Linked DNA regions of Homo sapiens. The protein of the gene in region 1 interacts with the protein of each later gene in a biochemical or structural test. Each region holds a gene or a part of one and is shown on either strand. Other genes may lie near its edges.

Region 1 (3,673 bases):
CCCACAGGTTGCTCTTCATGGAGCCTGCTGCTGCAGCTGGCACTGTGCTTGTGTTCTCCTGAGCCTTCTGCCTCCTGGTCCCTGTGCCTGCTCTGCAGTCACTCCTTGTTCTGCATATGCGTACAGATCCCTCCAGGCCAAGCCTCTCATGGACCCTTCCTCCCAAGCCTGCAGTCATCTTGTGCTCTGCCCTCCCCATCATCTCCATACTCATCCTCTTGCCCTGCTCTTTCTGGAGACTCTCATCCCACTTCCCTCCTGGGCCTGCCCAAGTGGTCTTTTCACCCTGTCATCCAGCCACAGTGTCTACTGAAGCCCGCCGCTCCTGGAATTGCCAGGCAGCTCTTGCGTGCTCTCTTGCTGTTCATGTGTTGCTCTGTTGTGACTCTAGTTAAAGTGTGTGCTTTTTAATGGCAGGAACTCTGTGTTCTATTCTTTATTATGTTTCTGAGATTCCAGCACAGTGACTTATACCAGGGAGACGCCAGGAAGATCTTGCTGGGTTTTAGACTGTGTCTCCCTGCAAGGACTTTATTCATTTGGTGCAAGGGGAGGTTTACTGCATGTATCAACTAGGATATTGGTTTGACTGCTTTAACTGAAACCAAATAACAGTGGCTTAAGCATAATGGGCAGTTTATTTCTCTGTCATGTACAAGTCTGAGCTGTGGTTGATGTGGGAGAGGCATTGCGTTCTGAGGATCATCCAGGACCCAGGTCCCTTCCATCTTGTGCCTCTGCCATTTCTTAAGGGTTATCCTCAACTGCATGGCCAGAGCTGGCTCACAGCACTCACCTGTTCTAGCCGTGCAGATTGGGGAGGCCTCACCTGTCACTGGGCAGGTCTGGGTTACACTGACCACACCTTCCTGGGGAGTGGGAGCTTTACCTGCCAAACCCCAGAGGCTGCCTTGCCAGAGAGCAGAGGAGAATGGAGATGGGGCAGGGGAAGCAGGCGTCGACCCACGAGGAAAAATCAGAGCAGAAGGAAGCTCTGGGATGAGTGGTTGAGACCAGCTGCCTCTGGTGTTCACAGAGGGCATGGGGGGTGCTCATGCTGGACTCCAGGGGTGACGATGCCCGGTTGTGCCTGGGACACGAGATTTTCAGTGCTGAAGCTGGGGGAGTCCCAGGCAAACCAGAGTGGGCGAGGTCAGGGAGCGGGGTTCCCCAGCCCCACTCAGGTCCTCCACTCCAAGCTGGGTCCGTGACGCTGCTGCTCTCTCTCCCTCAGATTCGGTGAGCCTGGCCTATCAGCGGGTCCAGAAGGTGGACTGCACCGCTCTGAGGCCTGTCCTGATTCTGGGGCCTTTGCTGGACGTGGTGAAGGAGATGCTGGTGAATGAGGCTCCTGGCAAGTTCTGCAGATGTCCCCTTGGTAAGGGGCACGGGGCACCCTCTGTGCCTACTGGGCTCTTTGTCTCTATGTCCCTGTCCACCTGCCTGCCCAGCTGTGCACAGTGGGTGGCAGTACCGGGGGGCAGATTTCACAGTGTTCCAGAAGCCTGCTGACATGGGTCAGATTCATGCATGGCAGGACTGGGTTACTGACAGCTGCTGAGCAGTGTTCTTCCCCTGCTCCCTCTGCTGGGGCTCAGCAGGGCCTGGGGCTCCCTGATTCCTGTGTCTGTGCATTGCAGAGGTGATGAAGGCCTCCCAGCAGGCCATTGAGCGGGGTGTCAAAGATTGCCTGTTTGTCGACTATAAGCGGAGAAGCGGCCATTTCGATGTGACCACTGTGGCGTCAATAAAGGAGATCACAGAAAAGGTACCCAGGGCTTCAGTCTGAGGATTAGGCATCCAGTATTAGACCTCCTGTGCACAGGTCTAGGCCCCTGGTCCGTGATCCTCTGCCCCAGCGGCTCAGACCTTCAGTGAGCCCACCGTGTTGTGTTAGTCTGAGTTCACCTGTGCCTGGGCTTGCCCTCATGGCTGCTGTGTGTTTCTGCAAGCACATCCCTTGGTGGGGATGGAGGAGTTCCCCTGTGTATGTGCCGCCCCATCTTCCTCTCTGGCAGGTGCGGGGGGTCTCATCTCTGATGAGAGTATTGAGCTCTGCGGAAAGGCCTCTCGCAGGGCATTCCGGAACGGGGTCCCCAAATGCATGTGCCGAACAATTTCACATGCACCTTCTGGGGACAGGAACGTGCCTTCCCTCAGGGTCCCTGCCCCTAAAAGGGCTATGACTCTCGGTGCCTTCGAACATCCTAGGCAGCACGAGGGCGGGGACGTCTGTGGGGAGTGCTGGTGGGGCAAACACTCGGAGTCCAAGGACACAGCCGCTCCTTGGGCTCCATTTCTCCAGGCTGCTCAGCTCGCTCGCTGGGCTTTGCTTCCCTTCTCTGTTAGATGAAGGTGTTGGCTTCTCACTGCTGAAAGTGGGCAAACTCTACTTGGGGGAATGCCCCAGTGGAGCATCTGGGGGTCGGGAGTGCACGGGCCTGCACTCCACCTGGATGCCTGGGACGACAGACATGACAGACATATTTCAGTCTCAGCCACACAAAGGCTCACCAGACTCTGGCTCTTCATTCGCTCAGTCTGGCAAAAATAAGGCTTCAGAGGCCAGGGTGGGGCAGGGCTTTCAGAAGGTCCCTGTATCTGGGCAAAGGCGGGAAAGGAAGTTTGGAGTTGGGCTGGCCAGCACCCCTAGCCCCCTAAGCCCTGGCTCCCAGCCTTGGCCTTCCTCACAGCAAGTGGGGTTTGTTGGGAGTTTCGTGGGTATGGTTTCCCCACGGTGTACTGTGTGGCTTTACTGCCTTGTTTGTGGGTAGAGCCCTGTGAGGTGAGGTGGGTCCTGCTGGTGGCAGGACAGGGGGCTGGCTGCCCCTCACTGCCCGCCAGGGCTCACTCTGCACCCCCCACCCCAGAACCGACACTGCCTCCTGGACATTGCTCCGCACGCTATTGAGCGGCTCCACCACATGCACATCTACCCCATTGTCATCTTCATCCACTACAAGAGCGCCAAGCACATCAAGTAGGTAACTGGCCCCCTGGGCTCCGCTGGGGCCTTGTCACAGGTGGGGCTGGGAGCCCAAGTAGGGAGCAGGGTGTGTTGGGGTGGGGGGTTGAGGAATGAGAGATGGGCCTATGGGTCTTGAAATAGGCAGTACGTGTAGAAAATGACCCTTCCCTGTCGGCCCTGTCCCCTACTCAGAGGTGGTGTCAGCCAAGCGCAGCCCCTTCCTCGCGCCCCTCCGCCATTTGGGTGCTGCCACTGTTTTTTGGGCATGGCCAGCTTGGTCTGCACAGCTCCCCTCTCCTGCCCCAGCCCCCTTTCCTCGCTACGTGCTGCTTAGGAGCAGGGGAGCCAGTGGCCTGGGCACAGTCCCACTCAGCCCCGAGCTGGCTCATGACTCAGGAGCCGTTGCCTTCGCTGAGCTTCGGCTCCTGTGCTGGTTGGGCCAAGGGCTCACCAAGGCCCTGCTCCATTTTGCCTTTCTGTGCTGCTGAGCTTCTGGGACCTGCGCTAGGGGCTGCTGGTGCATCTGTTCCAAGTGTGTGTGCTGGGGGGCCCTCCTTCCCCCATCTGCCCAGAGCTCCCCCGACAGCCTACAGGCTGTTGCTGTGCTTTATGTGGGGAGCACATGGGGCCTCCCTCCACAGCCTACCCCTGCCTTGATGGGGCCCCTGTTAGCCTGGACAGAGGAAGGAAAGAGGGCCTGGAGGA
Region 2 (2,808 bases), about 41 Mb from region 1:
CACATCTGTATACTATTTTACTTTGTAGGATAAATGGGTCGCTGAAAAGGTATACATATGTCCATTTTTGAGTGGTATTTTAGGTGTACTGAAAAATCTTTTTTATGACTCCATCATGAACATTTTAGAAACCTCGTGATTTTGCTTATAGACCCATATGTGGGATGTTGTTAGACCTTCCCAAATTATGTGTGAGAAATGGGTGATAAAATGCTAACATTTAAATAACTCTCCAATATATGATGGTATAGAAATTAGGCATGAAGTTCTCTACTCTCATTTTGATGGACCCGTGGATTTAGGCATATGCAGTCTTGGGGAGTAGAGAGCTTGGTGCCATATATTTAAATGCTGGCATTACTGAGGTTGGGGGCAGGGGGTCACAGAAGACCCAAAATGAACAGTTCATCTCTGGAATAAGGTGGAGTTGACAAATCTAGGTTGAATAGCATGTTTTCCTTGACATGATTTATCCTTGCTTTGACTCTGGCTATCCTGAGGTTGTGTAGTTACCCCATATGTATAACTGGCTTGGTTTATTAATCCTGTGGCTGAAGACTGTGCAACTGATTTAGTATTTATTGAGCTCCCACAACATGCCAAACACAGTATAAACCCCAGCATGTAGAGCTTCACATGTGATTCAGCAACACATGCATTTTACACACATAGCAAAGACATCAACGCATGAAGGTAAATCAATCAAGAACCTGCCTTGGGAAACAAAGGTGCTCCTGACCTCTCGTCTGTGAGGGACAGGCCCTGTGTTCACTCCCAGATCTAGCCACACTCTTGAGGTTAGTTTTGTGCCTTGCATTTGAAAGACTAACAGATGTTCAGGAATGCAAACCACAGGACAGAGGTCGTGGGTGAGCCTACCTGAGAAAATAAACCTGGAACTTAGCTATCCCAGTAAAACAGCAGATTGAAAATTCACAAGGACAAAAAATCAGACGGTTATAGGAACTGGAATATCCTTACCTTAGCATCTCTCACAATTGCTATTTCCAGGTAGCTGTTGGAGCATGCATTGAAACACTCTTCTGCCAGTTTAATGAGATAAATCTATTGATTGGCTGCCAAAAGTGTGACCTGGTGACAAAGCTTGCAAAGAGGATTACAGAACCTCCCATCAGCCTTGAGAAGGGCTGCTGCCAAGTACCAAGTTGGCTCAGTTCCCAGCCTGACTGCCTGTATTACTCCTTGCAGGAAGAGGACTGTGTATACATCTTAGATGCTTGATATTAACCAAAATGAATTATTAAATAAAATTTTCTACCTACAGTCCTACGCAGTTCTCTCTGGGACTCACCTCTGATTTTTTTGAAATTCGGTTTGATTTATAAACTAGTCCACAACACATTTCAGATGTTGTAAGAATTAATTGCTGTTCCGTTGCTGATTTTCATAATATGTAAAGATGTTTATAAGCACAATCTAATTCTCCAACCTCTTTAAGCTCTTTATAAAGTCCATGTAAGTGTTTCAAACTTAAGTTGTAGGCATGACAGAAACCAGTGGCAGCTTTTCTAGTAATTAATGGAGATGCTTGTTTTTCATAGTTGATATAAACTTAAGCTAATCAAGGAGCACTTTTTCTAACACCCTGACAACCAGGATTTAAAATAATTCATGGTATGTAAATTTGTTTTTTGTTGTTTTTTGTTGTTTTTGTTTTTTTTGTTTTTTTGAGACTAGATTTTGCTCTGTCACTGAGACTGGAGTGCAGTGGTGTAATGATAGCTCACTGCAGCCCAGTGATCCTCCCAGGCTCAAGTGATCCTCCTGCCTTTGTGTCCCAAGTAGCTGGGACCACAGGTGTGCACCACCACGTCCGGCTATTTTTTGTAGAGATGGAGTTTTGCCATATTTCCCAGGCTGGTCTTGAACTCCTGGGCTCAAGCAATTCTCCCTCTTCGGTCTCCCAAAGTTTTGGAATTATAGATGTGAGCCATGGTACCTGGCCATGGTATGTAACTTTATAATACAATTGACCTAAGGTTGAATGATGATATTCCTTCTGAATTGATTGGACTGATACATAAGAAATATGTAAGTAAACTGTTGAACGAATCCCTATATATTCTGATTTCAATAATTTGCCTCTTTGTGATTGAGCTGGTATTGCCTGAAGACTAAAAGAGTATTCTCTAAGTATGGCATGTAACACCGTCAAATTCAGCTCCAAATTATTAACACCTTTGGCAGGTACAACTAAAGCTTCATTCGGATGTTTCTGAGATTCATTAGAAAGAGGATTCCCGCCCCCACCCCCCACCCCGAGATGGAGTCTTGTTCTGTCACCCAGGTTGGAGTACACTGGCACAATCTCAGCTCACTGCAACCTCTGCCTCCCTGGGTTCAAGCAATTCTCCTGCCTCAGCCTCCCGAGTAGCTGGGATTACAGGCGTGCGCCACCACGCCTGGCTAATTTTTGTATTTTAAGTAGAGACAGGGTTTCAACACGTTGGCCAGGCTGGTCTCAAACTCCTGACCTTGTGATCTGCCTGCCTCGGTCCCCCAAAATGCTGGGATTACAGGTGTAAGCCACCATGCCCAGCCCTAGAAAGGATAATTCTTAAGGTGCTTAATCTTGGTTGCACATTAAAATCCCCTGAAGTGCTTTGGAAAATGCTAGTGTCCAGGCACCATCTCAAATCAACTAGACTCTTGGGAGGAGAGCCCAGACATCAATTACAAAAAGAAAAAAAAGTTCCCCAGGTGATTCTAGGAGCAGCCAGGGTTGAGAACCAGTGATTCAAACCTTCCAACAAAGAGCCGACGATGAATCAGATCCCTCCCCAAATA

What was found. The genes of interacting proteins can lie anywhere in the genome.
Region 2: the proteins of DLG5 (region 1) and PRLHR interact in a test that uses a peptide from one of them, tested with the Homo sapiens proteins (one large-scale study listed by IntAct).

Annotation. Positions count from the first base shown.
Region 1 is NC_000010.11:77,794,156-77,797,828, reverse strand, and holds part of DLG5 (disks large homolog 5), read left to right. Parts: intron 1-1,234; coding exon 1,235-1,378; intron 1,379-1,640; coding exon 1,641-1,768; intron 1,769-2,870; coding exon 2,871-2,980; intron 2,981-3,673. UniProt on the Homo sapiens protein: Acts as a regulator of the Hippo signaling pathway.
Region 2 is NC_000010.11:118,589,433-118,592,240, forward strand, and holds the end of PRLHR (prolactin-releasing peptide receptor), read right to left. Parts: 3' UTR 565-2,808; downstream 1-564. UniProt on the Homo sapiens protein: Receptor for prolactin-releasing peptide (PrRP). Implicated in lactation, regulation of food intake and pain-signal processing.